Linked DNA regions of Homo sapiens: all the other regions are linked to region 3. The links come from fine-mapping of genetic effects on gene expression. A gene starts in region 3. Each other region holds a variant in brackets. All regions are shown on one strand. Distances are from middle to middle. Region 1 overlaps RRBP1 (ribosome binding protein 1). Region 2 overlaps RRBP1 (ribosome binding protein 1). Region 3 holds the start of RRBP1 (ribosome binding protein 1).

Region 1 (10,289 bases), 33 kb after region 3:
ACTCCTGCTCCTGCTTGCTGTCTCTGGACATAGCTCAGCACCGCAGGCCTCTGCCTGTGGGTTCATCTCAGTAGTTCGGGGGTGAAGTGCAGAGAAGGACCCGAGAGCCACAGTGGACAGACCTTAGGGGCTGAGGGTGGTTTATATAATGGCACAGGCTATAGAGTCACCCAGGATTGTTGATAGGGCAGTGTGGACTTGGTGATGGGTCCAGAGCTCCAGCCACAGTGAAGAGACCCTCCCTGATTCCATGATGCTCAAGCAGCAAAAGCTCAGGACAGATGAAAGGAGGCATTTATGAACATGGAAGGGAGTCACTAGCAAACACACACGTGATTGAGTGGTAAGGCCCGAAATTCAAGGTATTTGAAATCCCAGTTAACAAGCAATGTATTCAGTCTACTTCTTTTCCACAGAATCAGTAGTGCATATTGGTAAGCCTCCAAGTTTATCCACAGAAAACCCGTAAGTCCTTAATGTGTCTGGAGTTGCGTGGTCCCAGGTAGAGATCTTCTCACTGGGGGAGCAGCATCTGTACAAGAAGAAGCATTTAGGACTCTGGCTTAAGATGCTTCACACTCAGCACCTGCTGCCACCAGTTCCATCATGGGGTCACACTCAGGATGTAGGGGACATTTGAGTCCTGGAATGACAAAGGCTCTCCTACAGGGAGACTGTGAAGGGAGGGTGCCGGCCCTGGGATGTGAGGAGGTCGAGTCTATGTTACGTGGACGGCCCACACCAGTCTGAGCGGGTAGCGATTGGGGTGGAGAGCCCTGTCCTTTTGTTGTGTCCTTTAGTGCAGTGGTCAGACCCTGCATGGCCATTATCAAACCAAAACAGACAAAAATGCGTTTGTGCATTACTGTTTAACTGTGCAGTGTGCTTTTCTCTAGTCTGTGCTGGTGGGTATCTGATATTAATGTCCCCATCAACATTGGTCTTTGGTGGCTGGGGGTTGTGAGGCATGTATGTGTGGCTCTTTCTGTCCACCTTGGGACCAGGAGGCTGTTCTTTTTTTTTTTTTTTTTTGAGATGGAGTCTCGCTCTGTCACCCAGGCTGGCATGTAATGGCACGATCTCGGCTCACTGCAACCTCTGCCTCTTGGGTTTAAGCAATTCTCCTGCCTCAGCCTCCCAAGTAGCTGGGATTACAGGCACCCACCACCACGCCCAGCTGATTTTTGTATTTTTAGTAGAGATGGGGTTTCACCATGTTGGCAGCTGGTCTTGAACTCCTGACCTCAGGTGATCCACCCGCCTTGGCCTCCCAAAGTGCTGGGGTTATAGGCGTGAGCCACCGCGCCTGGCCAGGGCCAGGCTGTTCTTGGCGTGTGATCTGTATGTATTGGTCTCATCTGGACTCCGTCACAGTCTGCTTATTCTTTAGCACACGTATTTTCTGCTCTTTGCAGCTGACGGGCTCCAGGGACATTTCTTGATTCATTTGTGGCTACCATCTTCTTACTAACAGCATGGGTGGGGGGCCCAACCCCTAAGCCACTGCCAGGTGGCGTGTGCAAGAAGGTCTGTCTGCATAGCTCCCAGCTGCTTTGCAGCTCTGACTGTAAAGGACAGAGGCCCTGGGTGGGCTCAGTGAAGTGTGCACCTCTCCTCACAGTTAGTCTGCTTTTCCCACACACAAATAACACGAACACAGGGGAGAGCCCGAGGGCGCGCTGGGCACGGTGGGCATGTAGCTGCATCTGGCAGAATTCCCACCACTGCAGTCAGTTGTCGGTGGCGCTCTCTGGATGCTTGGCCGTTTTGCCTTGCAAAGGCCCTTCTCTGCTCCGGGCACACTTCATCACTTGCAGTGATTTCCCACCTTGTCTCTGTGCCCTCGGATGATTTTCTTGGTTTTCAGTTAGCCATGAGCTGTGGTGCCCGAGGGTATGAGGCAGAAATCTGTGAGTCCACAGCATGGGTTTTCACCAGTGGCTTGTGGAATTGGTTTCACCCTTGCTACGTCTTATATGTGGAGTTTTCATGTTCCAGAATTATTTGGATTTCCACTTAACATTGGCGGCTGTGACCATGTTGCCTGGTGAGCAAGCCCGGATGAGACACGTTAGACCGTGGGTTCCTCCCTTTGTTGGAAAGGCTGCGGCGGCCCCCACTGGCTGCCTTGTGCCTCGTTGCCCCTCTGCTGGGGCTGAGCTTCCTGTCAGTCTGGGGCCTGCCCACTCCAGCTTCTCTGGGGGTCATGTGTGCCCAACCTGAGGCAACTGTAGGCAGAACTCCGGGTGGGCTGACTGGCCCTGGGCATCTAGAAACACAGGGACCTGTGGGTGTGAGTGTGTTGGGTGGGAGGGGTGAGGTGGCATGAGGGCTGTGCTGCGGGGATCTGGGAGGTGCTTGGCAGTGGGTTCTAGATCACCGGTGTGGAGCAGGCCAGGACGGGAACTCCTCCCATGAGTCCAGGAGGCCTTGACTTGGGCAGGGGAGGTGTAGGGCCTAGGGCTGTGCTGTCCCATATGGGAGGCACTGGTCACATGGGAGCATTTAAATTATCACCTAAATCAGTCAGAAGTAAATAAAATTAAAGATTCCATTCCTCAGTCACACTAGCCACATTCCAAGTGCCTACTAGTCACATGTGGCTAGTGGCTCCCTTTACACAGTGCAGAGACAGATCATCTCAGTCAGAGCAGAAAGTTTTGCACAGCAGTGCTCTAAACAGGACCTTCTGAAAGGAGGTGGCCTCTTGGATCACTAGCCGGTCTGTGCAGACCTGTGTTGGTGTTGCACAGAGGCTGTGGCTGGCCCATAGCACAGGACAGATTAGCAGCAAAACCAGTACTGGAGCTGGGCTCCACCAGAGACTTGAAGTGCTTCTTCAGTCTTCCTAGCCCTACCTGTTACCTGGCTGGTCCAGCAGGGCCCCCTGCTGACAGGTGCCCCAGAGGGAGACCTGGCAGGAGTGGTAGGCCCAGGACATGCTTTTGCAGACCCAGGCTGGAGCTCTTCCAGAACTTCTGCTCTGATTTTCCTCCAAGAGCAGATGGGGGCCCTGCAGCGGGTTTTTACCACTTGTCCATGGCTGTATTTGACAGAGAACACCTGCCTTCCTAATCCTTGCCTTTTACAATTTATTATTACATAAATATGTGTTTCCAGCAAACAAAATTCACAGTATGGAGGCATGGAAGGTGAAAATAGAAAGTCTTTTTGCTCCATCCCAATCACCATCCGCTTCCCGGGGGTGGAGGGGCGGGGGGGTAAATTCATTGTGCTCTTCACATGGGCACCCACAAACGGGAGCTGCAGTGCACACTGCTGTCTGCTTAACAGTGTGTTGGTGACATCTTTCCGTATTGCACCTGCGAAACTGCCACATTCAGCTGCATAATATTCCCTAGCATGACTGTATTGTAATTTATTTAAATGACATTTAAGTAGTGTGCAGCTATTTTGCAGCTAAAATTAATGCTGCAATGATGTACATACACTGTTGTGTGTCTCTACAAAATAAAGTCCTAGATAAGTAATTGTCAAGTCAAAAGGTGGGTACGTTTTTAATTTAGGAAGACAGTGCTGCATTGCTTTCCAGAAACGTTTCACAATTTACGATGAGAGGCCCACAAGATTTGTTTTCTGACTCAGCACTCCTCACACGGTGCTGCTGTGCTACTCTGGGAATGATTCTAACTTCAGGAAGTTTGGGGAGCAGGGAGCATTATAAACCCAGACGTGGGATAAGGAGAAAGCCTCTTTCTTTGGAAATGAAAGGCACAAATTCTTTACTAAATATTTGGAGAGGAGGAAATTGATGGGATCCTCGAGAAGTGGAAATTCCCCAGAATGGAAGCTTCCCCGTGTTCCGGGTACTGTCAGCTGACGCACGTGTCCAGGCTTTAGCTGGTTTGTTCTCCGATAGTTAACTGAGCACCTATGCACAGTGTCTATTAGGAAAGTCAAGTTTCTAACACAAGACGTGTGTGTATGCAGTGGTGTTGGTTTTTAAAAAAATCTATTTTTATCCTCAGATTGAGTCTTTGTTTGCAGGATTATGCTGGTTTGCCTCCCACCTGGGCTGCCCTGATCTTGTACTAATCACCATCTGGGTGTTACACTGGCAGGAGAGCTGTCCCACCCAGCACCTGGAATCAAGTCTGGATCCTACAGTGTGGGCGTAGACTGAGGAAGTACATATGTACATTCTGAAGACCCCACAGTTAGCATGAGCTCCAGAACAGTGTACTTTTAACTGGAGCTTGCTTCACTCATTGTTGCTGCTGGTTGGAAACAGGTGTTTCCTCATTACCTCTGCTAGCACGTCACTCAGGGGATGCGGGGATGCAGGGTACTTGTTGCACTCTTGGGGAGTCTGGAGCTCACCCAAGGACCTGTGACCTTTCTGCCTAATGGACGGGGGTGGGTAACCCTGGGGACATGGCACTTCTGTCTTGGCTGTGGGCCTGCTTTCTGCGGGGCCCTCTTTCCCCAGCCTGCTGATGCAAGCCAGTTTTACTCTGTGGCCAGAGAGACCATTGTGTCATGGCCCAGGAGAACCCACCCAACCTCCATGAGGTGGCAAACACTCAGAAACAGGCATTTCAGAGGCCCATTCTTGCCACGTTGTCAGATAAGTCCATGTGGGAAAAAGAGGCCACCTTTGGGAGGTAGGATTATGGGTAAATGTTAGTATCTTCCTTTCACCCTTCTGCATTTTCCAGTTTTTCTATAACTTTTTTTTTTTTATGGAGAAGAAACAACTCCATTATGTGTCTCTAAGTCAAATAAACAGGCCCTCATTATACCAAAGCTGATGGAACTCTCATCCTTCTGGGTGTTTTGAGGCAGCCCTGTGTCCTCTGAGGAGCAGCAAGGAACACGTTGCTCCTTTTGGGGTCTGGAATGAGGAAAGGTAGTGCCAGCTCTTCTGAGGCCTCCAGAAGGAGGCCAGTGCGTGTCCCAGCCCTAGCACACAGGCATCTGGGAGGCATTCATGAACTGAGGTAAGGTGGGAAGTTAAAGGCAGTTCCCACATTCTGGAGCCTGGCAGTGCCGTGGTGGGAGGGGGCCTGTGAGCTCTGTGTCGTGTGCAGTCTCGCTGAGCCCCCATTCTACCCCTACAATAGGAAATGTAACCTAAAATCCCAAGTCGTGTTCTGCAATCTAATGGGGCTGGGGTCACAGGTCAGGGGGTATGGGGAAGAGTTGTCAAGCCCCCAGGAAACGGTATTCAAGGTGTCTAGGGTAGCAGGGCCCTTAAACAATTTGACTTCGTGATGGGAACACCCCTTGCTCCCAGCTCCTCACCCACCCACCCACCCACGCCTGTCCTCCCCATGTGTAGCCTGCTTTGCTCCAAACCCAGCGCTGCTTAGCACAGCAGGTCTGACGCCACTGCTCTCCCCAGCCAGGTGTTTGTTCAGATGTGCAGTTTAGGAGGCTGGTTTCCATGCCTTTATCCCTCGTGCAATTCTCTAAGGTGGATTTGAATTTTTACCTGTTTGACAGAAGCAGAAAGCAAAGCTCAGACTTCCCAGAAGTCATGCACATGACCAGCAGATGGCAGAGCGGCCGGTGTGGGCAGCCCCTCCCGAGGCCCCCGCCCTGCCCGGCAGGTGCCCCTGTGCCCTTCTCGCCGGCAGTTGCACAGAGAGGTGTACACGGAGATCAAGTCAGATACTTTTTCTTTTGAACCTAACTCAGTTTCTCAGGGTCTGAAGCTCTGAAGAAAACTCTCTGGGGCTTATGACCCTTTATTCACTTTCTGTGGAAGTTCTTCAAACCCAACTTTTTCTTTTCTTCTTCTTTTTTTAAAGAAGAACAAAAACATCCCCTAGGGAAGCGAGCCAAGTATCAGTGTGAGAAGCTGCTAGATGACACTCTTCCAGAAATCTCTTTTCAGCCACTTGAAAACGTGTTGAGGCTGGGACTCCGGTCACTGCCCCCAGACGGCTGTGGTCAGACAGCCTGGGATTAAAAATCCCCTGCCGTTTTCTGCAGGCATTAGGTAGAGTCCTAATTGCTGTTTAAACTGTATTCTCCTTGGGCCAGCCTGTGTGCCTTGGGAAGGGCCTTGCCCAGAGGTCCTCCAGGAATTGTCGTTCTTTTAAAAA[T/C]ATTGTGATGTGGGTTTTTTTTAACTCCAGGTATAAAATTGGTTTTGTTGAAATTTGGAGGAAAAAACAAAACTTTAAAGAGGAAAACAGTTCTTCAATCTATAGGATATTTTAAATTCCATTAGATACCATTAAATATACCAGTCCCCAAGTTTGTAGCCGATTACGTTTTTCTCCAACTAAAGGAAAAGGACTGATTGAAAGGCCCTGAATTGGGTTGTTCTTGACATTATTTGTACTGAGCTCCATTGCCCTTAAAGCTGCGGATGTGACCGTTCGTGGCATTTGGGGTCAAGTGCAGCTGCGCCTCCTTGGCCTGCTTCCTGTCAGGAGCGCTGAGCAGCGCTTGGGCAAGGCCGGGCTCTGTGGCCTGAGCTGGGCCTGGAGTCCACTGTTTGTGCACTGCCCAGGGCCTGCCTCAGCTGTGGGCAGATGAGCAATGAGTGAGAGCAGGAGTCGCAGTTTGCCTCCAGGAGCATTTGGTAGATCTTCATTTCCTCCAGGGTCTCATAAAGCTCACTTCCCCCACAGGCTCAGGAGGAGCCTTCACGGCCACAGTCCAAGAACGAGCAGTTAGAGGCCAGCAGTGATGTTGGCCGGAGCTCCTCCCTAGAGAGCGTCTTGCGTCCCACCTCGGGGTGGGACCCTGAAGGGAGCCGGCTCCTCAGGTTGAGAGAGACAGAGATGCCCTTGGCTTTGGGTCAGCAGGAATGGGGAGCTTGTCCTCAGCCTCTGAATCTTGGTCTGCAGAGGCTGATGACTGCTTGCGTGGTGCTGGGCTTCCAGGAGGCATGTGGGAGCCCTTTCCTGGGGCCCCAGGGTCTTCACCTTCTTACAGCAGACCTGAGTTTGGGTCGGGTGACTGGGGACTACAGGGCGTGGAAGGCACGCCAAGATTGCGATCTGGCTTGGGCAGCCATGCTGGGTGCCTTGGTCTGCACTGTCTGGAGTCACCCCGTGCAGGCCCGGAGGCAGCAGCTATTCAGACTACATGTGTGTGTCTGAGGGAGGCACCCTCAGAACTGATCTGGACAATCTCTTAGGAAATGAGAGTTTTTGCCACTGGAGTTCTTCCCCAAGCCCTCAAGTCCATGCTGTTTCAGGTTCCATTGCCAGAGTCCCTGGGTTGACACCTGGGCCTCTCTCCCACCAGCTCAGCTTCCTGAATACTCGGGCCCAGATCCTGGTCCTGGGCTCTTAGGACCCAGCGGGGATAGGCTCTTAGGACCAGGGTCCAGGCCAGCTGGTCTGCCTGCTTCCAGCCGCATCCCCCTGGGCATCCTGAAATCTTTTTCTCAAATTCAAACGCTCCTTCCTAGGCATCGCTTGTTGCCTACAGAATAAAATCCAGATTCCCAGGGCCTATGAAGACTTGGACCTAGTCCAACCTCGGGTGCAAGTCTGACACGCTAGGGCCCAAAGCCCCTCACCGTGTCCTTACCCAGCTATGCTTGGCCCAATGCCTTAAAGCCTTTCTCGGCATTGCTGCCACAATTGTTCTCCAGGTCCCCCTTGTGTCACTCTTCTGCCTTATGGCCCTGTGTCCTCTGCCTCTGTTGGCCACAGCCCAACCTATAACTTAACTTTCCAGGCCCAGCAATTTACGAACTGCTGGGTATGCAGGTGGTACATACTTTGTGTCTAGAGACCACCTGGCCCTGCCTGCCCTGATCAGGGCTGCTGGGCACCTGTAGCAGCAGCTGGAGCTGAGCCGGAGCCTTTTGTGGGGCCCATCCCAGGGCCAAGGCGATAATCCCCTCCTATTAACCACCAGCTGCTGCCAGGGCTCAGGCGGCAGTTCCTGGAGTGGTTCTGATACCCTCCCCGTGGACTGAGAGAGCCAGGTGTGCACAGTGCAGGGGTGCTCCAGCAGCTGATGTGGGGGGCTGGCCGCTGAGTCTCATGAGGCCACTTAGGGCTGAGATCCTCCTTCTATGCCTGAGCCCTGGCCATGGGGGATCCTGGAAATTATACAGAGAGAAAAGCCTCATCCAAGGACGCCACAGTTGACAGTGAGAGAGAACACTAAGTGCCTCTTTGCCAGATGAGTTTAATTTTAGGTGCCTGAGCCTCCCAGTGTGGTCGCAGAAGGGAGAGTCATTTTGAAATTTGGGGTGTGAGGTGCGTTATCTGAGCTGCTGTGAGCTGCTTGAAGGCCGGCCATGCTGATTTATTTTGCTGTGCGTTACCCTGCGCCAGGCATGGTTCCAAGCACGTTGCAACTTACTCTTTTCAGCCACGCTGTGAGGGGAACAATGATCATCCCCGTTTTGTAGGCAAGGAAACAGAAGCAAAGGAAGGTTAAGCCACTTGTCCAAGGACAAAGGTGGGAAGGAGCTGAGCTGGGATTCGACTCCAGGCCACCTGGTCCCAGAGGCCTTGCTCTGACCTTGGTGCCCCACTGCCCAAGGACAGAGGTGACCTGCAGACTGGACGTGGCCCACGGATGTGTTTGTTCATCTGTACAGTGGTTTCATTCATTTATTTGTTTTTTATTGAGTTAGCTGTCAGCAGTAAAGATGAGAAGATAGCACTTAAAAATCTCGTTTCCAGGCTCTTGGGCAGGCCTGTGGCTTTGAGGGTTCTGGCTCAGATTCCCCCATTGCAGCTATCACCTGGAGGTGAAGTGCCGTGCCCAGGACCACCCAGCTCAGGAGAGGCCACCCCCCTGAGCCCAGGCCTGTGTGGTTATTTGTCACAGTACCTGTCCCATTCCTGCAGGGCCTGGCCCCTGGGGTGTTGCTGTGTCCCCTGCCAGACAGAGGTCTGGATTATCCATCAAAGTGAGACACTGGCCTGCGTCTCTACTCTTGGGTCTCCTGCTCCCTGGTCACTCCCCAGGCCTCCTGGCCTGTCCCTTCCTGGTATTTCATACCCACCAAGATGGGCAAAGCGTTAGCCGCAGGAGCAAGCCCTCAGGGAGCTGAGCTTTTCCAGCATTCACTGCACCCTGGGCCTTTTGAAGTCTGTGATTTCACAGACTAGGTGTTGAGTCTGAGAGACTTAGTTTAGTGCGTTAAGATTTCACAATTCGGAAGATTACTGGTATCTTCGAGTATTTGCTGGAGCCCTAAGTGATGTGCTGGGCACGCCTTAGGCTCCCGTTAGTACGTTATTTAAATGCAACTCATCTGGAGGCCCAGAAATCCTGCCTCTGCTTCTGAGGGCTTTCCTTTTTTCTTTCAGTTGTGCTGCCCTTGATTTGGGGACAATTGAGACAGCAGAGTTTTTACCTAAAAGATTTAATGAAAAATGATTTGTAAAGTTATAGCTCTCTAAAAACAGTATAAAAGGTAGTGTTTGTATGAGTGTGGCAAAGGCTGTGGAAGTTTCTGGGGGGCCATGAGAGGTGGCAGAGGAGAGCGTTAACATTTTGCTGTACGCAGCTTTGCGTTTGTTTCGCGTGTTGCAAGTTTTTATTTTTCTGTTAAAATATCTAATAGAATGGAATTACGTTAGAAAGTTTTAATAAAGATTTATGAGAATGCCGCTCCGAGAACACTCTCGGGAGCACTCTGTGGACTGAGCCTGCGGCGGGTGAGCATGTGGCCATGCTGCCCCTGTGCAGGAAGCGGCGTCCTAGAGCGCGTGCCCTCCAGCTGCCTTATCCAGATGTTTCCCCACCCAGCAGTGCAGTAGGGGCCGTGGGGCCTGGAAGGGTGGTCTTTAAGGAGAGAGTTCAAGAGAGGCCAGAGCTCTTGGGTCACTCTGGAACCTCTGTAGGACCAGGGGCTGCCAGGAATTCAGCAGGGGGCACTTTGGGGGTCCCTGGTTCTGGAAAGGAATAGGCCAGCCAGTCCAGGAGAAACAGAATGTGAGCCACACACGTGTGAGCCATGGATGTGATGTAAATGTCCTCAGCCACATTTAAAAAGGCCAGCAAGAAACAAATGGACTGAATGTTAACGATACATTTTGTTTGACCCAGTTTATCCAAAATGTTATTTCAACATACAATCCATATATAAAATTATTACAGATACTTCACATTCTTTTTTTTTCATACCAAATCTTCTAAATTCCACGTGTACTTTCCACTCATAGCACATCTCGAGTCAGGCCAGCCACGTTGCAGGTGCCCAGTAGCCACACATGGCTGGTGCCCAGCACATCGGACGGCGCAGGACGCTTTTCTGAGTCAGGAGGGGGAAATGTCCTTGCAGCCAGCAGCTAGACGCCGGCTGAAGCAGCTGCCCTGCCCAGTCTGTAACTACAGAG
Region 2 (10,289 bases), 63 kb after region 3:
TAGGACAGACACAGAGGCACTAGGACGTACAGACGCACTAGGACACACAGACGCACAGGTGCACTAGGACGCACACAGTGCACTAAGTGCGCACAGAGTGGCCTTGGCCTCAGAGCTCCTGAGTCCACGCCAGACCCCGGCTCTACATCCACCTCCCCCTCCCACCTCCTTCCCTGCCGTCCTTCCCTTCTTCACTTGCTCCTTTCCAAGAGAGGGATGGGGGTGCCCCCTTGATGGGCTTCTCCGTGCTGGTCTCTCTGGCTGAGGGTACAGAGCTGCTGGGGTGGGACTGGAGGCAGTGAGCCCGAGGCTGCACTCTTTATGAGCTTTTTTGGTGTTATTTCTGTTGTGTGTCCTTTTGTCGGGTAATCCTGCTGCTTGGGCCTCTGAAGTCATGGCCCAGGGGGCTCTGTGAGGAGACTTTTTTTTTTTTTGAGACGGTGTCTTGCTCTGTCGCCCAGGCTGGAGTGCAGTGGCGTGATCTCAGGTCACTCCAACCCCTGCCTCCCGGGTTCAAGCAATTCTCCTGCCTCACCCTCTCAAGTAGCTGGGATTACAGGCGTGCACCACCACGCCCGGCTAAGTTTTGCATGTTTTGTACAGATGGGGTTTTGCCATGTTGGCTTGGTTGGTCTCCAACTCCTGACCTCAAGTGATCTGCCTGCCTTGGCCTCCCAAAGTGTTGGGATTACAGGGGTGAACCACCACGCCCAGTCCCATGAGGAGTCTTTAAGTCACAGAGGGGAGGACATTGTTTGCAGCGAGCACTCGGGGAACAGAGGCCGCGTTGGCCCTGCGCTCCATGCTGTCCAGGTGGGGCGTGTGCAGGTGTCTCCCAGTGTCTGAGCCCACGGGTTGCTTTTGGGGTGCTGGGCTGTCCAGGAGCCAGTGAGGAGGCTCTGGCCAGGGGACATGGCCAGCAGCAGCTGCAACTAAAGGCCCTGCCCACACTTTGAGGTCACACACGTTTTCCTACCTCATGAAAGGGCCTCCACTCCCAGCCTCTCTCACAGGAATATCTGCCCCAATGGCAGGAGCTTTGCGGTGATTCCCAGGAAGCCTGAGGGTTGTATCAGATGAGGACAACTAGCTAGGGCAGGAGGTGAAGGATGGCCTCAGGCCACCCTGTGAGAGCTATAGTTAGACTCCTAGAATCTTGGCCTTGTAGCCCCCAGTGACCTCAGAGACTGTCTGGCTACCATGTGGTAAATGAAGCTGTGACCAGAGATGTCACCTGACTTGATTGTGGTCACACATCCAGATAGAAGGTGGCCTCTGGGTCTCCAGCTTGCCTTGACTCACAACTAGAGGCCTCAGTGGTGGTCGTGAGGTCAAGGGTCCACATGGGTCACGGGCCCTACCTGTGGATAACTTGGCCAGCCAGGAAGGGCCCGCTTCTCAGGTGTGCGTCAGGCCAGAGGGCGCTGCGCTCAGGCTGGGTGTCCGGTGGTCAGCATCCTTCATGCACATTCCAGGACTCTGCTTGGGGGAGTTAACACTCCATCAGCTCTGATCCAGGTGGAGTTCCTGGGGCCTCCCTGGGTCTTAGGCCAGGCCTGTCCAGGTGGTGGCAGGGCCAGACACAGGCTGTTACCCCAGCAGCCTTCCCCTCGGGGTGTGGGAGAGCCCAGCTCTCTCCCGGGGGACACTGTGGTCCTAGGCTTTGCTTCATGATTCCCTTGGGCCCCCTTTGTTTCCTTTTGTTTCCTTATCTTTGTTGTGCTTTGAATGGGGGCCGCTGGCTCTTCGTTGAGGACTGAGGGGGTGTCCGACCCAGCATGGCACAGGGTGCAAAGTCCCTGTCTCCTCTGAGTGGGCTTCTCCCTCTGCAGAGGGGGAATGCTGATCCACCCTCTCCAGGGTGGCTGGAGATGAGCCTCTCTGGGTTGCCCCTTCCTGGCTGCCACTAGCCCCTAACCGTGGTGCCGCCAGCAGACGCACTGCTTCCCTGCCTTCACCCCCATCCCCATCACAGCTCTAGATTCCAAAACATTGGGGGCCATGAGTGTCCTCCCATCCCTTCTTCCTGCCCTGGCTCTCACACATCAACTGCGGACCCCCCAAATTCCCCCACACATGCACACATGCCCAGAGAGCTCGGGAAGTGAGAGCTGGTGGAGACTGTCCCTGCTGGGAGATGTCCCGGGAGCTGGCACCTGCCATCTTGGCCTGACCCAGTATGCTCCTTTCATCAGAGCTTAGTCTGTTTGAAATGGACCAGATACAGGCTGGGTAACCCCTCTGCTTACAGTCAGCCCCATGGAGCCTCATCTTCTCCTTTGATTCTTGTCGCTTCCCTGAAGAGCTGAGGATGTGCCCTTTCTGGGGCAGAGACCCGGGCATATCAGTAAAGACCTGGGGAGGTGCCCCACACCTCCACAGCTGAACACCTTCCGCTCTTCCCCACCCACCCCCCAGGAGGAATCGGAGAAGCAGCTCTGTCTGATTGAGGCGCAGACCATGGAGGCCCTGCTGGCTCTGCTCCCAGAACTCTCTGTCTTGGCACAACAGGTAGGAGGGGAGGGTGGTTCCCGGGGACCTCACAGTTCTCAGGGAATGTCCCCGGGTCTCACCGAATGTGTTTCATTGCAGAATTACACCGAGTGGCTGCAGGATCTCAAAGAGAAAGGCCCCACGCTGCTGAAGCACCCGCCAGCTCCCGCGGAGCCCTCCTCGGTAAGTGTGGCTGCCTGGCAAGGCTCCTCTGTTGGGCTCCCCTGTCCCCAGGAAGAGGGGCTGCCCCAAGTCATTTCAACGGGAAGCCAAGAGAAGAACCTTTGTGTGTGGCTAACTAAACACCTGTTCTTCCCTCTCTCAGGACCTGGCCTCCAAGTTGAGGGAGGCCGAGGAGACGCAGAGCACACTGCAGGCCGAGTGTGACCAGTACCGCAGCATCCTGGCGGAGACGGTGAGCATTGGGAACCTGTCAGCTGGGCATCCCTGGGAGGCTGCAGGGAAGGAGAGCTTCGGGGCCTATGGGGCAGGAGGTGGCCTGGTGTTTTGGAAAAGCCCACTGGCCTTGTGACTCTGGGCCCCGTTCTTCGGCTGCATGGTAAATGGATGGCACCCTCTGAGGTCGTCATTGTTTCTAAGCTGAAGAGAAGGCCAAGTTGAAGGTTCGGGGCCGGTCTCTAAGCTGGGGAAGGGGAAGGACGGGGTAAGCAGCTGGTGACTGCCAGGTTGAACCCCGTTTGTGACTAAGAGCAATGCCAGGTCTAGCCCTGCCACTCTCTGGCCAGCCCATCCTGTGCTCCTCGTCCTGGGCCATTGACACACTTGGTGCTGGTGGCAAACCCCGGCAGTAACAAGCATCCTAGTGGTCCTGTGCAGGTCACAGACCTCATTTCCTTGCCTGGCACTGCAGCCACACTGGCCCACTGGCCAGAGGACCTCCCTCCCAGGACAGTGGTTGCCTTCCCTCCCCACCTAACGCTGGCGCTCATGAAGTCAGCAGGCGGAGCACGGCAGGTCACCAGGGCTGCAGGGACAGGAAGATGCGGTTGTGTGGTGCGGGTCTCGGGAGGGAGAGGGCCCTGCCTCACCTCGGTTTCCCCCCAGGAGGGCATGCTCAGAGACCTGCAGAAGAGCGTGGAGGAGGAGGAGCAGGTGTGGAGGGCCAAGGTGGGCGCCGCAGAGGAGGAGCTCCAGAAGGTATATGCAGCCCTGCCTGCCTCCCGGCGCCGTGGAGCACATGAAGCCCAGGGGAGAGTTGACAGGATTGTCTCTGTCACCTGTGAGACTCGTGTGTCTCGGTGGGGCTTTTCCACGACACCCTATGAAGCACAGTTGCGGGATGACAGCTCAGTCCGTCCTCCAGGAGGCCCCCGCCTAGGAAGACACTGCCAGATGGCGCCAGGGTGACCGTCCCAGCTGGGCGGAGTGGGCACCCCCGGGGCTTCCTAAGTTGGGTCAGTCCCGCTCGGGTCCTAGCATGGCCTCGGAAGGAGACACCCCCAGGTGCTCGTGTCTGACGGAGCCTTCCCCTTGCTTTGTAGTCCCGGGTCACAGTGAAGCATCTCGAAGAGATTGTAGAGAAGCTAAAAGGAGAACTTGAAAGTTCGGACCAGGTATGTGCTCTGCTCAGAGAACTCTTTCTCTTGTCCCGGGAGCCTCTTTGAAAGTGACGTTAATGCAGAGGACACTTCACTGATTTCTTCCTCATGGACCGTGTGCCTTAAGAGAGGCATTCTCTCTCAAGCCAAGGGATCTTGTCCATCCTGTTTTTCCTTAATGAGAGACATTGACTACCTCAGAGGACCCTGAGACCCAGCCACGGGCCCTGTGCAGACCTGCCCAGCCCTGGTGAACAGGGCTTCTGCCACGGCCTTCACAGTCAAGGTGGCCCCACTGCCCCCTTCAGACGCCACAGGGAGCCCTGGAGAAGGTACCCTTGGTACCTGCTTTTGCAAGTAAATCTAAGAGCATGTCAGTCCCCAGGAGTGCCCG[G/T]GTGCAGCCTGCCACTTTCCGTAAGGGGTTCTCTTGCCGCGGACTAGTTTCTCGTTTGCTTGGTAGCTGGTGGGCCTCAGGGATCTCCCGAGAGGCCTCACCTATCCCAGGGCCAGCCTGCTCCCTGAGGTGAGTGCCCTTTGAGCAGAGGCTGCTGGCGCATGCGTGTGCGTGTCTGTGCATCTGTCCAGGTGAGGGAGCACACGTCGCATTTGGAGGCAGAGCTGGAAAAGCACATGGCGGCCGCCAGCGCCGAGTGCCAGAACTACGCCAAGGAGGTGGCAGGGGTGAGTCTGCCCCCCAAGGAGTGCAGCCCCTGCCCAGCAGATCTGCGGTCCTCCCTGAGCTGCTTCTCCTCAGCCCTGTGGGAGCAGCTCTCGGTGACATAAGCCTTGAAGTCCGAGTCCTCAGGCGTTTGCCCGAAGCCTCACAGGCCCCTCGTTGGGCTGTCAGGCCTGAGGTGTCTCTCAGGGCAGGTTTCAAAAAGGCAGCCTCCCAGCCAGGACAGGGGCAGAGCCAGGCAGCCCTGCCCCGAGGGAGGCGTTTGACGTTCTAGGTTATCCCTCCGCAAGGGGATTCTCTGCCTGGCTTGCTGATGTCATATCTGGTGGGGAGTGGATTTAGATCTGACACTTTTTCTGCTCTTCAGAAGCAGAAGCACAAGCCCAGTATCCCAATTCTGGTTTAATCTCAAACTTTTGGGCCAGGCACAGCGGCTCATGCCTGTAATCCCAGCACTTTGAAAGGCTGAGGTGGATTGCTCGAGGCCAGAAATTTGAGACCGGCCTGGGCAACATAGCAAGACCGCATCTCTACCAAAAAAAAAAAAAAAAGCCAGGCACACTGGTGGGCACCTCCGTTCCCAGCTGCTTAGGAGGCTGATGCAGGAGGATTGCCTGAGCCCAAGAGTTCAAGACCAGCGTGGATGACAGATTGAGACCATCTCTGAAAAAAAAAATCATCTCCAACTTTTGGCCCTTTTTTGCCAGAGATAATCAGTAAACATTTGTGAAGGCCTGAAAGAGGTACGCAGTGAACACCATTCTTCCTAAGTCCTCAAAAAAGAAATCGTAGCTGTAGGAAGCCTGGCGAGCCCTGTGCCGGCCCGATGCTGTGACCCTCCTCAGGGTTTTGGTTAAGTGGATGTGTTAGGTTTTATGTTTCGGCGCTAACTCACGGGGACTGGTTTTCTCCTTTTCTCTCCTTTTTTCCCATCACCCGCCTCTGTTTTCTCCCCAAGCTGAGGCAACTTCTCCTAGAATCTCAATCTCAGCTCGATGCCGCCAAGAGCGAAGCCCAGAAACAGAGCGATGAGCTTGCCCTGGTAGGTGGCCTCCATGTCCCCATGCCAGGAGTGTGACCTGGGGCGTTGCGTGTGTGAGATGCATTTGCCAGTCATGCGTTTGTGTCCACTCAAAGATAAAGCCTAGGGAAGGGACAGTGTCACCCGTTGAGCAGCATGGGGCCGGCTTCTGGGGGCCTTCCTGCACATTTGCCCAGAACTCTGAGCTGGGCCTGTGGCTGTTGGGACCAGGGTGCTCCCACTCCATCTCCCGTCCCCTGGCTACCTGGTCCCCTGTTCAAGGTAGTGAGAGCTCTGGGCGTCTGCATTCCCTGTGAGCCCATTGTAGTCACCTGGGGGCGTCAGGGATATTGCAGTCCCTGGCATCACAAGACCAGGAAGCCTGGGGGTTCCTCCTGGCCTGGCCACCCATCGCCCTGGGGCTCTCAGCAAGTCCCGTGCCTTCTGTGGGTTTTCTCACCTCAGTGACAGCTCAGATCAATTCAGTCAAAGCCACAGGCATGCAGGGAAGACCTGCTCCACGCCCGGCCCCATACCAGCTGCCGGGTGCAGAGAGCAGCCCCCTTGGCAGACCACTGGAGCTCTGCCTGTGCAGGTGGCCTCTTGAGTCCCTCCTGGTGTTCAGCTCAGGTGTCTGATGCCAAGTCCCAGCTCCTTGGCAGGCTCCACCCAGCCTCACCGGATCTGGTACCGCCCCAAGGCTGGTGTTGTGAGCAGCACCCTGTGAGGCCGCAGACATGTTCTGTTTGATCTGCGGTGTTTTTTTAAATCTTGAATTAGTTGTCAACAGGGAGAAATTGGGAAATTTTAAATAAAAATGGGCTGGCATTCCCCCTGCAGCAGCCAGTGAGTCCGGCACACGCTCCCAACACCCTCGGTCCCCCTTGGTCATTCAGGTCTTACCCGGACCAGAACACCAGAGGGCAGTGCTGCCTAGGCCAGGTCTCCTCCTGTGTCTAGGGGCCACTCACTGAAGCCTTGGCTGAGCGAAGTCTGGGTGACAGGCCCCGGGGGCATGGCCCAGGCCGGGGATGTGCAGAGAAAACCCCCTGGAGTTTCTGTTGTCTTCCAGCTGTGCAGTTCGTTATTTGCATTGGGAGGGGCTGTTCAGAGGGAGGGAAGAATGTCTGGGGTTCCCACGTACCTGGGGTGGCCCCTCAGCGCAGGGTCAGAGACCGCCCATGTTCCCTGGGGAGCTTATGCCAAGGGCCCCACCTGGGTCTCCAATTGGAACCTCTACCTGAGCCTCTCGAGTGACACCTGCCCTTCAAATTGCAGGCCCAGTGGTTTGGGTGCAGCCAGATATGCCACCTAACCCCAGTGATGGAGCGTAGGGGTGGGGGACCTTGTTAGGCAAGAATGTTATCTCATAATCTTTTCTAGACCCCGGAAAGGGCTCTGAGCAGTGGACTGCATCCTTGAAGGAGAAACGGGGGGTGTAGACAGTGTGGCGGCCACCCCCCGGTTCCATTCGGATTCCTTTGCTCTGTGGGCCATGCCCATCAGGGGTCACCTCACTCCCAGGGAGGGCTCCCCTCCGGTTGGGCTTGGAGCAGAGCACATTGGGTCTCATTAGCCCAGAGGCTTGGTGGCCTTGGTTTGGCTCAGGTTGGCGGCGGGGGTGGCCAGACATAGGTCACAGTTACCAAGCCAGGTCCCCTGAAGGGACTTTGGCTGTTGAGAGCAGCTACGGTCCTCCGAGGGGGTCCCTGCAGGAGTGAGCATGGTGGGTGTGCGACTGGCTGTGCATTTGCAAACACACCCCTTCCTGTTCCAGGTCAGGCAGCAGTTGAGTGAAATGAAGAGCCACGTAGAGGATGGTGACATAGCTGGGGCCCCAGCTTCCTCCCCAGAGGCGCCCCCAGCCGAGCAGGACCCCGTTCAGGTTAGGGCGGTGAGCTGGTCCCCAGACACATCACTAATCCCAGAAGAGTGCAGGCCCTGCTGCCTCCGTTCGGACTAAACCCCGCACTGGCTGCTCCAGCCTCCGCTGCTTCCCCACCCCACCCTGCTTTGCCCCATTTGGATCATCCAGGTTCGGAGAAAGCCACAGAGCATGGAACAGAAAGGTGGCCAGGTGGAGAGGCTGGAGGAGTTGGGGGGAGGTGGGACTCGAAGAGGGAGTCCGTGATTTGGGGTCTGCACCTACAGGGCTCAGGAGCAGCTCTGGGCAGGGTCTGCAGCCATCGAAGGGGACTGTCTCCCACTGCAACCCCGGCTGGGACATCGCTAGCAGGATATTCGCTCTCCAGAGTTTTGAGCCCGGCAATAGCCACCAAGAGTCCTCACCAAGAGGCAGGGCCTGTCCCTGGGGTGGCCATGGTGTGGCTGTTAAGGGGGTTGTCATGGGGCCAGGGCTCGGAGGCATCGTTCTTGTCCTGTGAGTCTCGTTAAAGGCCCCTGAGGTTGCAGAGGCCCCATCAGCTGCTCCTGAGCCACACCGAAGTCTGTACCAGGGGCTGAGGTGCCCTCTCCCCAACGAGGGGAGCGTTGGGGCAGGGAAAGGGGAAGCTAGAAGCAGCTAGAGAGCGGTGCCTGTGCTGGATCCCTGGGCCCCTGGAGGGTTCCTCACCGGGCTGCCGGGTTATGTTTGCGGTGTTTGCACAGCTGAAGACGCAGCTGGAGTGGACAGAAGCCATCCTGGAGGATGAGCAGACACAGCGGCAGAAGCTCACGGCCGAGTTTGAGGAGGTCAGGCCCTGCCTGGTGGCTCTCAGCCCCCATCAGCCCCTGGGCCCTGAGTCTCCAGGGAATGAGTGGGTCAGCCCTGCCCCGCTCGGCTGTGCCCAGCAGCACCTGGGCTGGGCCTGGGCCTTCTGGGCAGCAGTGGGTGGGGCCCGGGCAGGTGGAGCACAGGCTGGAGGCACCTTGGGAGCCCTGTGGGTGGTCTGCATCCCTGAGGAGCCTTGAGGGCCTGGGGCTGGGTCAGAACTTGTGGGTCTGGCCCACTCATTCCAGCTACAGGATGGAGCTGTTGCTCCATCAGGCTGGGGGGGCCCCCTGGTCCCCAGGCGTGCTCGGTAGGGTCTTGACAGCACAGCCGTTTATAAGACGTCTCACCCAGACCTCACTTCCCTCTCCGGCAAGGCTCAGACCTCGGCATGTCGGTTACAAGAAGAATTGGAGAAGCTCCGCACAGCCGGCCCCCTAGAGTCTTCAGAAACAGAGGAGGCCTCACAGCTGAAGGCAGGCAGGGGCTGGGGCGGGGGTCACACCTGGAGGGTCTGCTCTGGGGCTGGCGCCACTCTTGGCCTCGGAAAGGGGCCAGGAAGGGGAGAGCCGACCCCACCGGGACCTGCCCTTGGCACTGGTTCCCCTTGTCACTACCCGGGGCTGGGGTGGGGACTCCTAGCCCTGCAGTGTCACATGGTCACATGGCAGCCATTAGTCCTGGTGGCTGTCGAAATGTGAAGCATGTAGAACGTGAAGTGCGTTCCTCAGCCACACGTCCAGCGCTCAGTAGTCAGGTGTGTCTCCTGTGCTGCCTTGGACAGTGCGGAGTAAACTGCTCCTGCCCCAGGAAGTTCTGGTGGTGCTGAGAGCACAGGACCCAGCCCTCACGGTCAGCATGGGCGGTTTCCTCCCTGTCGTCACCACCTATCTCCGGGTGACCAGGAGTTGCCTTCCTTGTGTCCCCAGAGGGCTCCAGCCCCTGGCGTCAGGGTCCTGTGGGCATAGCTGGGGTGGCCCTCCTGCCGGTGCAAGGGCTGATGCCCGTCAACCTTCTGACCATCAGGAGAGACTAGAAAAAGAGAAGAAGTTAACAAGTGACCTGGGGCGCGCCGCCACGAGACTGCAGGAGCTTCTGAAGACGACCCAGGAGCAGCTGGCAAGGGAGAAGGACACGGTGAAGAAGCTGCAGGAACAGCTGGAAAAGGCAGTGCGTGCCTGGCGCCAAAGCAGGGCGGGAGGAGTCGAGCTGCCGGGAGCCCCGGGGAGGCAGGACCGGGAGAGGCAGAGCTGGGCGGAGTCGTCAAGCTGCTGGGAGCGCTGGGCTGGGAGCCCCAGGGGAGGCAGAGCTGGGCGGAGGTAGTGGGGACAGAGACTTCCTAACGAGGGCTTCAGCCCACCCGGCCCACCACCCACCCTTCTGGGGTTCCCTTGCTGGGAAGCGAGTGTCTGATCCCCCTGCTGGCCCAGGTCCTCACTTTGCACCTGTGTGGGCCCCTTAGCCAGTGCTCCAGCCCCTGCCCTGCAGGATGATGGTTTCCCCTCAGCTCCCACCAAGTCCTCCCTGTCCCCCAGCCCCAGGGGTCTGTGGCTCCTGTTCTCTGAGGGACTGGAGTGGCTTGAGGGGGTCAATCCAGGGAGGGACTAAAGGCCCAGGGTAGAGGGCAGGTGGTTCTGCCATGGCTCGTGGCCCAGCCCCCCTCACGCCACCTGCCTTCGTTCACAGGAGGACGGCAGCAGCTCAAAGGAGGGCACCTCTGTCTGAGTTTCCTCTTTGGAAAAAGAAGTTACTGTTCAACTTACCAAAATGCCTTACACATTCCTTACAAATAAACCAACCAACCTACACAGCGTTATCCAGGCCCAACTT
Region 3 (10,289 bases):
TCTCCACTCCCATTCATTTCTTAGCCCTCCACGATCTGGTGGTGTCCTTACCAAATACCCCTCCTCTAAAGCTGTTTCCCCAAGGTCCCTGGTGACTCCTGAGTTGCCATGTGCCCCGGTCTTCATCTTGCTGGATTTTTAGGCTACATTTAACAGTGCTTACCATCCCCAATTCTTGAAACTCTCTTCCCTTGCTGAGGCCATCCTCACCTGATTTACCTTTTCCATCTCTCCTTCTTGGACTCAGTAGTTGATTGCATCACTGGTGCCATTGCTTTACCCTTCCCTGTATTTCCCCGCCCCTTGAATCTGGGCTCACCTATCCAATACACCTTGTATATGTATTTCTGCTTATTTTCTTTTCCTTCAACCATCACCGTGAGAAGGGAATGCCCCTTATAGCTTGCTGATCACAGGAAGAGGGGGTGAGCCAGGTGCAGCAGAGCTTGTAAGGTGCCCCAGCCAAGCCCAGGCTGGAGGTGAGCTCTCAGGCCACCCAGAGACCTATGAGTGAGCCAACCAAGATCAGCCAAGCCTCAGCTGACCCACAGATGTGTGAGCTCTGATAAGAAACCATACTTGTTTTAAGCCACTGAGTTTGGGAGTGGTTTGTTACATAGCAAAAGCTGATTGATACATACTCTTTTGTGGGTTTTTTCCTTTCTCTGTTCAGGACTCAAGCATTTTCTCCTGTTCCCATCCACATGCAACTCCCACCCTATCCACTGGTTATAGTCATTGCTGTCCTTGGGTCTGAACCTCCAAGGGTATGCTTAGGTTTCCTAATTGCATCACTGACCCTGACAACAACCCCTGAGCCTCAGACCTACGGAAACATTGTCTCCACCTGGACTTGCCTTAGGCTCCTGAAATCCAACATGTCAAAATACAATACAACATTTCCCCCAGCTTCTGTCCCCAATCTGTTCATTCTTTTGTGTGCCTTGCCCCAGCAGTGACACCACCATGCTCCCTATCACTCAGGCCAGAAACAGGGCTCATGGGTAACCCCTCTCTCCTTCACTCCTGCTGGTCTCTAAGCCTCACTTGCTACTACTTCATGTCCTAATACCCCTCCTGAAGGACCTTGCACCTCCTACCCCTGCCACTGCCCCATTCCAGCCCTTGTCACCTCTCACCTGAGCTATTGTGGGTCTTATAACCCTGTGGGCCCCAAACCTAGCATCCACCCAAAATATAGAACGTCAAAGGAGTCATCACAGCTGTCATCAATCACAAACCCTTCCTTGAGTTGCTACTCTCAAAGGATTAGGCTCAAATCTTGCCCCTTCTATAGGCACAGCACACCTTCCACGACCTGGCGCTGAATGCAAGAGTTATTGCCATGAGCCTTGGGGACCAATGTAACTCCTCCGACGAGCCCTGTGACATGGGCAGGTTCCTTGCTCTCTCTGTGCCTCGGTTTCCTCATCTCTAAAATGGAAATAATAACTCTACCTCCCTTATAGGGTTGTACTGAGGGTTAAATAACTTTACGTATTTGTAGCGTGTCTCAAATGGTACCTGGCACAAGAAACCTAAACATGTTCTCTATTATCACAGTGGCTTTTATTTTCACATGATATTTTATTGTACTTGTCATTTATCATCCTTTCATAGTTGTTTGACAAAGCAAAATCTCTTTTTAAACTGTGAGATATAATATATTCCCATCTTCCTGTCTAGTCTTTCGGATAATATTTGCAATTTATTGTCATGAGTTAATGGACCATATTAGGTAATTATTCTTGTATGTTTAATTTTTTTCTAATAATAATGCTTTGTTTTTAATACACAACTAAAACCAAATACATCCTTTTTTTGAGTCAGGTTGATTGAAGCATAATTTGCTTCCAAGCCAAATGTACTCTTTTTAAGAGTGTACAATCCTATGAGTTTTACCACAGCCATCACTATAATCAAGATATGAAACATCTGCACCACCCCAGGGAAGTTCCCTGTTTCCCTTATGATCACCTGTGTAGAACCAGCTCTTCCCAGCCTCTCCCTCGCCCTTCAGGCTTTGCCAACAACTGAGTTGTTCAACAGATAAACTGAGATGATGTGATCTCAGATCATCCTCTCCCTCCACCTCCCCCTCTCCTCCTTCTCTTTCTCTGTCTTCTTCTTCTTCCCCTTCCCCTTCCCCTTCCCCTTCTCCTTCTCCTTCTCCTTCTTCTTCTTCTTCTTCTTTCTTCCAACCTGGAACTCTTGGGCTCAAGCAGTCCTGGGGCTAGCTGGAGCTGCATGGGCACACCACCACACCTGGCTAACATCATGCCTTACTTTGCCCATGCTATTCCTCGCCAGTGTGCCCTTTTTGGCCTGGCTACCTCCCACTTCTTCACACCTCTGCTGTCAGCCTCTGCTCCCCTCAGGGTGGGGTAACTCCCCCGGCTGGGGGCTCCCAGACTGCTGACTTTGTGTTGAAATGACCTGTTCCCATCTGAGAGCCCCAGCCTGGAGGCTGGACTGTGGGATGGGCTTTCTCGTGCTGCTGGAGGGCTGCATGATTTAGCAGAAGACTTGAGCCTGGGGGGATGCCTCTCACTCCCACCACAGGCAACCCTTGTCCATCTAGTCCTAGGGATGGATCTGGTTTTTCCCAGATACGCCTTGGGAGAGCTGACGAGGCTGCAGGGGGTTAAAGATGGGTGTCCACAGGCACAGCAGTGGCTGTCAAAGTCGGGCCACCCTGAGGGTGTGCAGATCTGCCCTGACAGAGCCTGGTGCAGCGGGACTGATTTCTTTGCCCAAAGGGCATGAGGATGATGAGGCTGGAAGTCTTCACAGCACATTGGGGCTGGCTGTTGGCAGATGAGGGGCAAGGACAGAGGAAATGCAAAGGCTCAGACAGGGCTGCTCTTCCATCCCGAAACAAATGTTGTGTTGAGGCCAAATCAAATGTTAAGTTATGTAAGGGAACAAACAGGGAGCCCCTTTTCTGTAAACACTCCTCACTCCTAAGGACTTTGTAATGTTATCGCTCATGGGACAATATTTACAGAACACGTATATTCACAAGCCTCTATTCTGTGCAGGTGCTGTGTCGGACTATGGTTCACAGTGTGGGAGACACTGCTGTGGCCCCCGACATGCCTCCAGGCACTCACCATTCTGCCAAGGGCTTCTTGCTGCAAGGCTTTCTCCAGCTTGATGGGGGCGGGGGTTAAAGTCCCCCCAGAAGAAGCTGTTAACCAATGAGGACTGGGAGTGGCTGGATAAATAACCAGGTCCTCACCCCTCAGCTGGGACGTCTCTGGGGTGTGTTCTACAGTTTCACAGCATCCCCAGAGACGCCGAGCCCTGTGTGCCCACACCAGTCACAGGCTTGATGTTGGTCCCCTTATTGGCTCCTGCTCATCCCACTTCTCCACCAATGTTTCTTATGATTATCCCCCAAATGAATGATTGAACAAACCCTACTGCCAGGATCTGCTTCCGGAAAAAGATAAACAGTGAACAGGATAAAGGAGGTCCCTGTCCCTGGACAGGCCCTTGAGGGCAGCTGGGTCTTCACTGGACCTATGTGTCATTCTAGGCTGCTTGCCCAGCTTAGCACTGTATACCGGGCACTCCACAAACACCGGTGAATGAATGAATGAATGAATGAACGAATGAATTTCCTCCCTGAAACCCAGAGGAAGGAGTGATTGTCCTAAAGGAGTATACCCATGTTCAGAAAGGTTAGATGGCCCAGCCCTGGTCAAGTAGGACTCATTGGTAGCAATTGCCAGCCAGAAGCTGGGATTCTTGACTTTCATTTGAAGCCGGGTCTCACTGCTGGAAAATGACTGAGTGTTCCAGAGTTAATCCAGGTTAATTCCTGCTGATTAATCATTAATGGGCTAAGGAACCGCCAAGATTAAAAATAGGAATGAACAGTTTAATTTCAACCCAATCGCTCTTTATTCCCCATGAAGGCTTGTATTTTTCACATCTTTCTAACAACAGCTAGTACAGTACTAGTGACAAATGGGGACAGGGAAGATTGAAAATTGTCCAAGAAATAGATGTTAGGCACGGGATTCTGCAGCAACAGGAGCTAGGGAAGTGATGGGGGGCAGTCTAGGCAGCCTTTGGTCGCTCAGAATCCAAAATTCCAAAGAAGCTGGCTTTGGCTCAAGTTCAAAGGGTTGGCTTTAAGAGACGCTGACATAATGGTTAAAAATCAAGCCTAAAATTATTTTAATTTAAAGACTTGACTAATTATGAAGACTGAGTGTTGGCTGATATTGGGGAGAAAGTCAGGGAATGAGGAAGTACCAGTTGCTCCGTTTTGTGGGACACGGATGAGTTTTCTTAGGTTAGAACCTCTCACCTTCCCCAACGCATGGAATAAAACGCCACAGAGTGGATTGTAATTATTGCTCTGCCGGCTGTGATTTGGTTGAGTATCTTAAATAGACCGTGCCTCAGTTGTACCCTCCCTAACAACGAGGGCGATGACATCCGCTTCAATTCCTCGTGCACCTTCTGGCTCTTCCACCCCAATTCCTCCATTTACTGAAGGAAATTCCTTCTGGTGCTGATTGCAATCTCTTTGATGATAAGAACTTGCTCTCCCTGGGCTGACCCCCAGCAGAGCTTGTCCTCATACCCGGCGGCCCGAGGGGGCGCTGCTTCGGGGGAAGTTAGTTGGGTTTAAATAAAGCAGCTTCCTTGGCTGTTCGCGGTTGCGCAACCCTGTTCAGCCACCGCCATGTCAGCCCAGCGGTATCCAGAGGCGCAGGCCCGGGGTCGCCGGGACCCGAACCTTCTGCTTCCCGCCTAGGCAGAGCCGGATCCTAGTCAGAGACTGCTGGGAGCGCCGCGGGCCCAGAGTGGGCGGAGCTGGCCGGAGACCCCCCCCTCGGTGGGCGGGGCGTTCCTGCTCCGCCCCGCCCCGCGCACGGCCGAGCGCCGCGCCGCTCGGCCCCGCCTCTCCCCAGCCCTGCCCCCTTCACCTCCCCGCAGCTCCTCCCCTCTCCCATTGGCCGAGGTGGAGACCCTCCTCTCTGCCCAATGGCCGCCGCCGCGGCTCGGCCACCCGCGTCCTGACTGGCCAGCGACCGGCAGAGTGGCGGGGTGCGGACCAATGGGAAGAGGCGGCTCGATGAATGGCTGGCCCGGGTGGGGAAGGCAGGAGGCGGCGATCCCGGCGGAGGGGGCCGTTCGCCAGCTCTGAGGCAGAAAGTGCCACGACTCCACACGCGCGCACGCAGCCAGCGAGCGGCCGGAGCGGACGGCAGACGGGGCGGGCGGCGTCAGGGTCGCAGCGTCTACAGCTGCTCGGGGGCGGTTTCTTGGCGGAGGCTTGGCCGGCTCCTCTCTCCCGGCTCCGCGGCGGCTGCGAAGGCGGCGGCTCCTGCCCTCTCGCTTTCCCTCTCGCGTCTCTGGCTGCAGGTAAGAAACTTGGCCGGGCCCTGCAGCGGCCGCGCGCGGGCCGGGCCGTCGGGGGGCCGGGGCCGGCCGCGCTGCGCCGCGAGTGACACGTCTCCTCGGCGGCCCCTCCCCCGGCCCGCCCGCCGCCCGCCGCCTGCCGCCGCGGCCGTGCACCATCGGGGTCGGGGTCGGACTCGGGGCGGGGGTGCCGGGCAAGCGCCGTACCGGGGCGTAGGCAGGGCGCGCCCCGTGGTGTGGACCCCGCGGCCCTCGCCGTCCGGGGAGCTGCGGCGGCAGACGGGCGCGACGTGGCGACCGCTCCCTGCCTCCCTCCCTCCCGGCAGGGCCGTCGGGCCGGCCAGCGCGCTCCGAAGTTGGGCGAAGAAAGTTGGCGGCGGGGCGGGGCGGGGCGGCGCACAGCTGGCGGAGGAAGGGGTTAAGTTTCGGGAAGCCGCCGGATGACGTTGCCGGGCTGGAGTCCGGGCCGGAGGGGTGGGGTGCGGGCGGAAGGCGGCGGAGGCCGGCCGAGGGGAGGAGGGCGGGATTGAATGGGGGCCCACGGGCCGAGCGCGCCGGTCCCGGGCCGCGGCCCGCTGGCGCTTCGCGGGGCTGGGACGGCCCCCGACGGGGCGGGCCGGGGCCGCAGGGCTCGCGGCGCAGGGACCGGGTCTGTCCATGGCACGGACGCCGGGCGGCCGCGGTGGCAACTTCCCGGAGTGCGGGAGGCGGCTCCCTGCTCCCCCTGGCGGCGGGGCCGGGGCCACCGTTTCCCCGGCTGGGCTGCGCGGAGCCTGGCTCGAGGGCTCCCGGCGGGGGGACGAGGGCGCCCGGGGCCCGGCCCGCCCCGCCCGCGGCCACGATGAATGGGCCGGCGGTGCCAGCCCCGGGCGGAAGCGGACACCTCCGGGCCGGCCAAGCGCGCTGGCACCCGGCCTGGTGCCCGCCCCGGCCCGGCCGGCTCTCCCGCTGCGCCCTGATTAGGGGAGGCAGGCCGGGGTCTGCGCTTCCAGTGGGGCGCCCGCAGTGCTTCAGGGACCCCTCTCCGAATGATAAGTCGCGAGTTTTAGCTCTAGAGTGCCCCGGCTGGCGAGGGTGACCCCGACCAAGTTGTTTCGTTCGGGGTCTCCATTTCCTGGTCTGCAAATCGGGGCTCCTGTTAGCTTCGATTTGCGAGGAAAGCTGTGGAGACCCAGCACTTGTAGGAAGGAGCCACAAGTGTTGGCTGTTCAGTTGGGATGCTTTTGTTGGGGGGTGCTGGACACGGGAGGAAGGTGGGGCCTGGCTCCGGCACTGCGGCGGGCGCGGGGCTGCAGAAGTTGCACAGCCGGGGTTCTACACCCCGGACCACGTACTGGCCGCCTACTCGCAGGTCCCATAGCCCCTCTGAATCCTAGTTTCTTATCTGTGGCCTGAAGACAGCACCACCCACTCACAGGGTCGGGAACCACGCCGGGAAGTGCTGGGACCTTGTACAAACAGAAGGCAATTTGGCAATTACTCTGAGAGGTCAGAGGTTAGGAGAGACTGGGAAGCACCAAGGAAATGAAACTCTGAGGGACCTGAGGAGCCTCCCACGTCACTGCTCAGCTATTCACTCTGCGTGCTGGAACCTTCAGGGTAGGGGCCATCTGGATGGCATTTTCAGGAATTTGGAGAAATGGGCCTGGTAGGGCCTCATATCTCACATTAGATACCTCTTCAGAACTGGGTGTCCCCAGAGACCCAGGACGTCTGTCTGGCACTCCCAGGAAGAACAACTGCGAATGTTACCCCGCCCTGTGCAGCTGGGGGGCATTCTCCCACTGCCCCGCCTCCCTCCTCACACTCCTTGTTTGATTTAACTTCCTGTTAATCCGACACCTAGAGAAATCTGTGACCCTGCAGCATGTCACTTACTGTGTGATGTCTTGACTCGTTTACGAACTTGCCAAAGGTCACTCCCACTATCATATGCCAACCTCTTTCCCTTCCAGAAAGAAGCTTCCGGTTCTGAGGTCCTGGAGGTGCCATTTCCCTCTCTGTTGAAGCAAAGGCCGGGGCAGACCTCCTAGTAGGTGAAGTTTTCCTTTTACATGGAGCACCGCAAAGCCGGCTTGCAGGGATCTTGGGCCAGTGGAGGCCTGGAGGAGGCTAAGGTTGGGGGAGGGGAAACCAGAAAGGGATCTTGGGGTTTAGGAGAGGGTTTAGAGCTCTAGGCACTATAACAACTCTCACCTTTCATACTTAGGAATCTGCCTCTGAACATTTACAGAGAGATTAAGAAGTTACAGTGGTTCATGGTATATGAGTATTTTTTGGTGATGGAAGAGTTTTAAATAAATCTTAAATCAAGTCACATTTGAGCAATTATGCTCTTTAATGAAATGAGCCCTAACTCAACAGGCTGCAATAATTACATAGCAGCAAACTCAGTTTAAATGGTTGAATGCCAGTGATTGAATTGGAGTATTGATTTATTATGTAGCAGGGACACCTTTTAAAAGTGTCGGGACCCCAGACTCTTCTTGTCTTTTTAGCCCTGGGAATTTTAACTAATAGATGAATGACACATAGAGGATCAACAGTTCTGTTGAGACAGCAAGTTTTTCTTTGCTAAAATCTTGTTTCAGGAGAAACAAAAATAATGGTCAAGTCAGAATGATGAAGGCAGGGACTGTGCTGTCCGTCTGTGCATGCTGGGCCTGCAGTGGTTAAGGCCTGGCCTATAACATCATAAATATTGGTTATACCAGGCGGACAGCGCCCCCATACCTGTTAAACTATTCCCAGCTGTCTCATTGGATAAATGAAGCTTAGCCCAACTTGGTTTTTAAGGTTCACTTTTTAGAATCAGATTCCACAACTGTGGTTTACATTTAGGCCTTAAAATAACCCTGTTCTAGGGGGTGGGAATGGTTGTCACCCATTCAGTGGATGAGAATGTGGAGGTCCAGCTGGTCAGAAGGTTGTCAGGCCAGTTCCTGTTGCCCAGTTGCTAGGCGATGTGGGCCCGGCCTTCCAAATGTTCCCTCCTGGCTATATACCTCCACCTTCCTGGGGCAATAATTACCCAAGGGAGGACACAGAACGTGAAGATCAAAATTAAGAGCTTCAGTGGCAGGAAGGTGGGGAGGCATTTTGAAAATCTGGCAGTGCTGAAGGTATTTTTCATTTCATTTTTTTCACCGAGGGTCTCCTGTGTGGTGGGCCTTCAAACACCGCAAGTGAGACCTAGTTCTTGCCTGAAAAAGCTACTGTCTAGAACTGTGTTGTCCAATACAGTAGCCACAAGTAGCAATTTAAGTTTAAAACAATTCAAATTAAGTAAAATTAAAAATTCAATTTCTGAGTCAAATTAGCCACATTTCAGGTGCTCAGTAGTCATAAGTTGGTCAGCGTGGCTGTAGATGGTTTCCACCATCACAGAAAGTTCTAGACAGTGCTGATGTAGAGGCAGCTGGTATTCTGTAAACATTCATGTCCCTGTTCCTCTTGATCATGTGGTAATATGTTGAACCACATGAAATTGCCCATTCTGTAGGTCAAAACCAGTTGACTAGTGGCAGTTGATACACTTCACCTGATAAGATCTCACCCTGAGAAAGCATTAGTCCCGCCTCTTTGTGTGCATTGTAAACTGCATTCCAAGAAAAAGGAGTGGGAGGGGGGCCACACAGATAGTGGCCCTTTCCTGGAGAGATTTTTTACCCAATGCCCTCAGCATCAAAATGGTGACTTGTAACAAAGACAGAAAATAAATTGATATTAGGTAGAAAGTGATGGCTTGTAAGGGAAGGTAAATATTTAATTTTAAGTGACAGTGCCTAGGCAAGGAGGCACTCTCACTTAGCATATAGAAAATTAGTTCAGGGGCCTCCTAGGAGACTTTTCTTAGGCAGACAAATTCTGGCCGAGTCTCCTGAAGCAGACAACCAGACACCCCCAAAACCAGACGTGTGTGTCCTTTATGTGCATTCAGTAACATGTGTCTTCCACCTGTCAACAATGGGCAGCAACTTTAACTTATCAAGAACATTTTGTGATTTCTAACTTAGATTTTTTTGGCAAGACTAGAATACCTGCCCAGTCCCGAAACCTTTTCAGTTCCAAAGTATTGGAGTTCCAGTGTTCTTGGGTGGCATAAATTGCTTCCTACACCAGTGACTATTTACACAGCTCTGTTATTCTCCATATAACTTTTTTTTCTTTTTCTTTTTTCTCTTTTTTTTTGAGACAAAGTTTCGCTCTTGTTGCCCAGGCTGGAGTCCAATGGCGTGATCTTGGTTTACTGCAACTTCTACCTCCCGGGTTCAAGTGATTCTTCTGCCTCAGCCTCCCAAGTAGCTGGGATTACAGGCATGCGCCACCACACCCGGCTAATTTTGTATTTTTAGTAGAGACGGGGTTTCACCATGTTAGTCAGGCTGGTCTAGAAGTCCTGACCTCAGGTGATCTGCCCTCCTCGGCCTCCCAAAGTGCTAGGATTATAGGCATGAGCCACCGTGCCCGGCCTCCATATAACTTCGAAAGGATCATTGGGCAGTACTGGGGAATAATTTTTGAATTCTTGGTTGTACTTGTGGGCTCATCTTAGTATTAGTACTCTGTAAAGAATAATATAAAACCAAAGTTTAACTTTAAAGGAAGAAGCTGAATGATGGACAGCTACTTGATCTCTTTCTGGTCAGAAAGGAGGCCCACTAAGACTACTGGAAGTTACAGACTATTTATAGTGATAATGAATATCATCTGCTGACTCAAAAGTTGGAATAAAAGACCATCTTGAATTCAAATCTTTAATTCTCTATCCTGGGCAAGGTATAAGCAAACAAGGTCTGTTAGGGTATAAGCAAACAAGGTCTGTTAGGCTGTCTTGAGAGGAATTCCAAACTGGTGCCCTGTGTGAGCTGAACTTGGCCTTCACATGGAATTTGTTTCACTGACCT

The links. PIP is the estimated chance that this variant, and not a neighbour inherited with it, causes the effect.
Region 1: its variant is fine-mapped to the expression of RRBP1 in whole blood (INTERVAL, PIP above 0.99).
Region 2: its variant is fine-mapped to the expression of RRBP1 in whole blood (TOPMed, PIP 0.99).

Annotation. Positions count from the first base shown.
Region 1 is chr20:17,644,577-17,654,865 of GRCh38, reverse strand. All of the region lies in intron 3 of RRBP1 (ribosome binding protein 1), which reads left to right. Among named protein-coding and RNA genes, the nearest start is that of RRBP1, 33 kb to the left of the region's middle. RefSeq lists silencers at 2,811-2,890, 5,502-5,631, 6,281-6,370 and enhancers at 5,783-6,486, 6,551-6,640. The variant T/C (reference allele first, on the strand shown) is at 6,072.
Region 2 is chr20:17,614,077-17,624,365 of GRCh38, reverse strand. RRBP1 (ribosome binding protein 1) reads left to right here. Exons shown (of 25, transcript NM_001365613.2): 14 at 2,419-2,511; 15 at 2,593-2,676; 16 at 2,819-2,908; 17 at 3,559-3,651; 18 at 3,996-4,067; 19 at 4,638-4,733; 20 at 5,687-5,770; 21 at 7,527-7,634; 22 at 8,357-8,440; 23 at 8,837-8,935; 24 at 9,486-9,629; 25 at 10,146-10,289. The coding sequence ends at 10,184. Among named protein-coding and RNA genes, the nearest start is that of DSTN, 49 kb to the right of the region's middle. RefSeq lists enhancers at 9,005-9,728, 9,729-10,289. The variant G/T (reference allele first, on the strand shown) is at 4,447.
Region 3 is chr20:17,677,124-17,687,412 of GRCh38, reverse strand. It overlaps RRBP1 (ribosome binding protein 1), which reads left to right and starts at 5,171. Exons shown (of 25, transcript NM_001365613.2): 1 at 5,171-5,385; 2 at 7,338-7,414. RefSeq lists enhancers at 4,501-4,560, 5,814-6,486, 6,678-7,877 and silencers at 4,841-5,260, 5,491-5,820, 5,851-5,900, 5,931-6,240.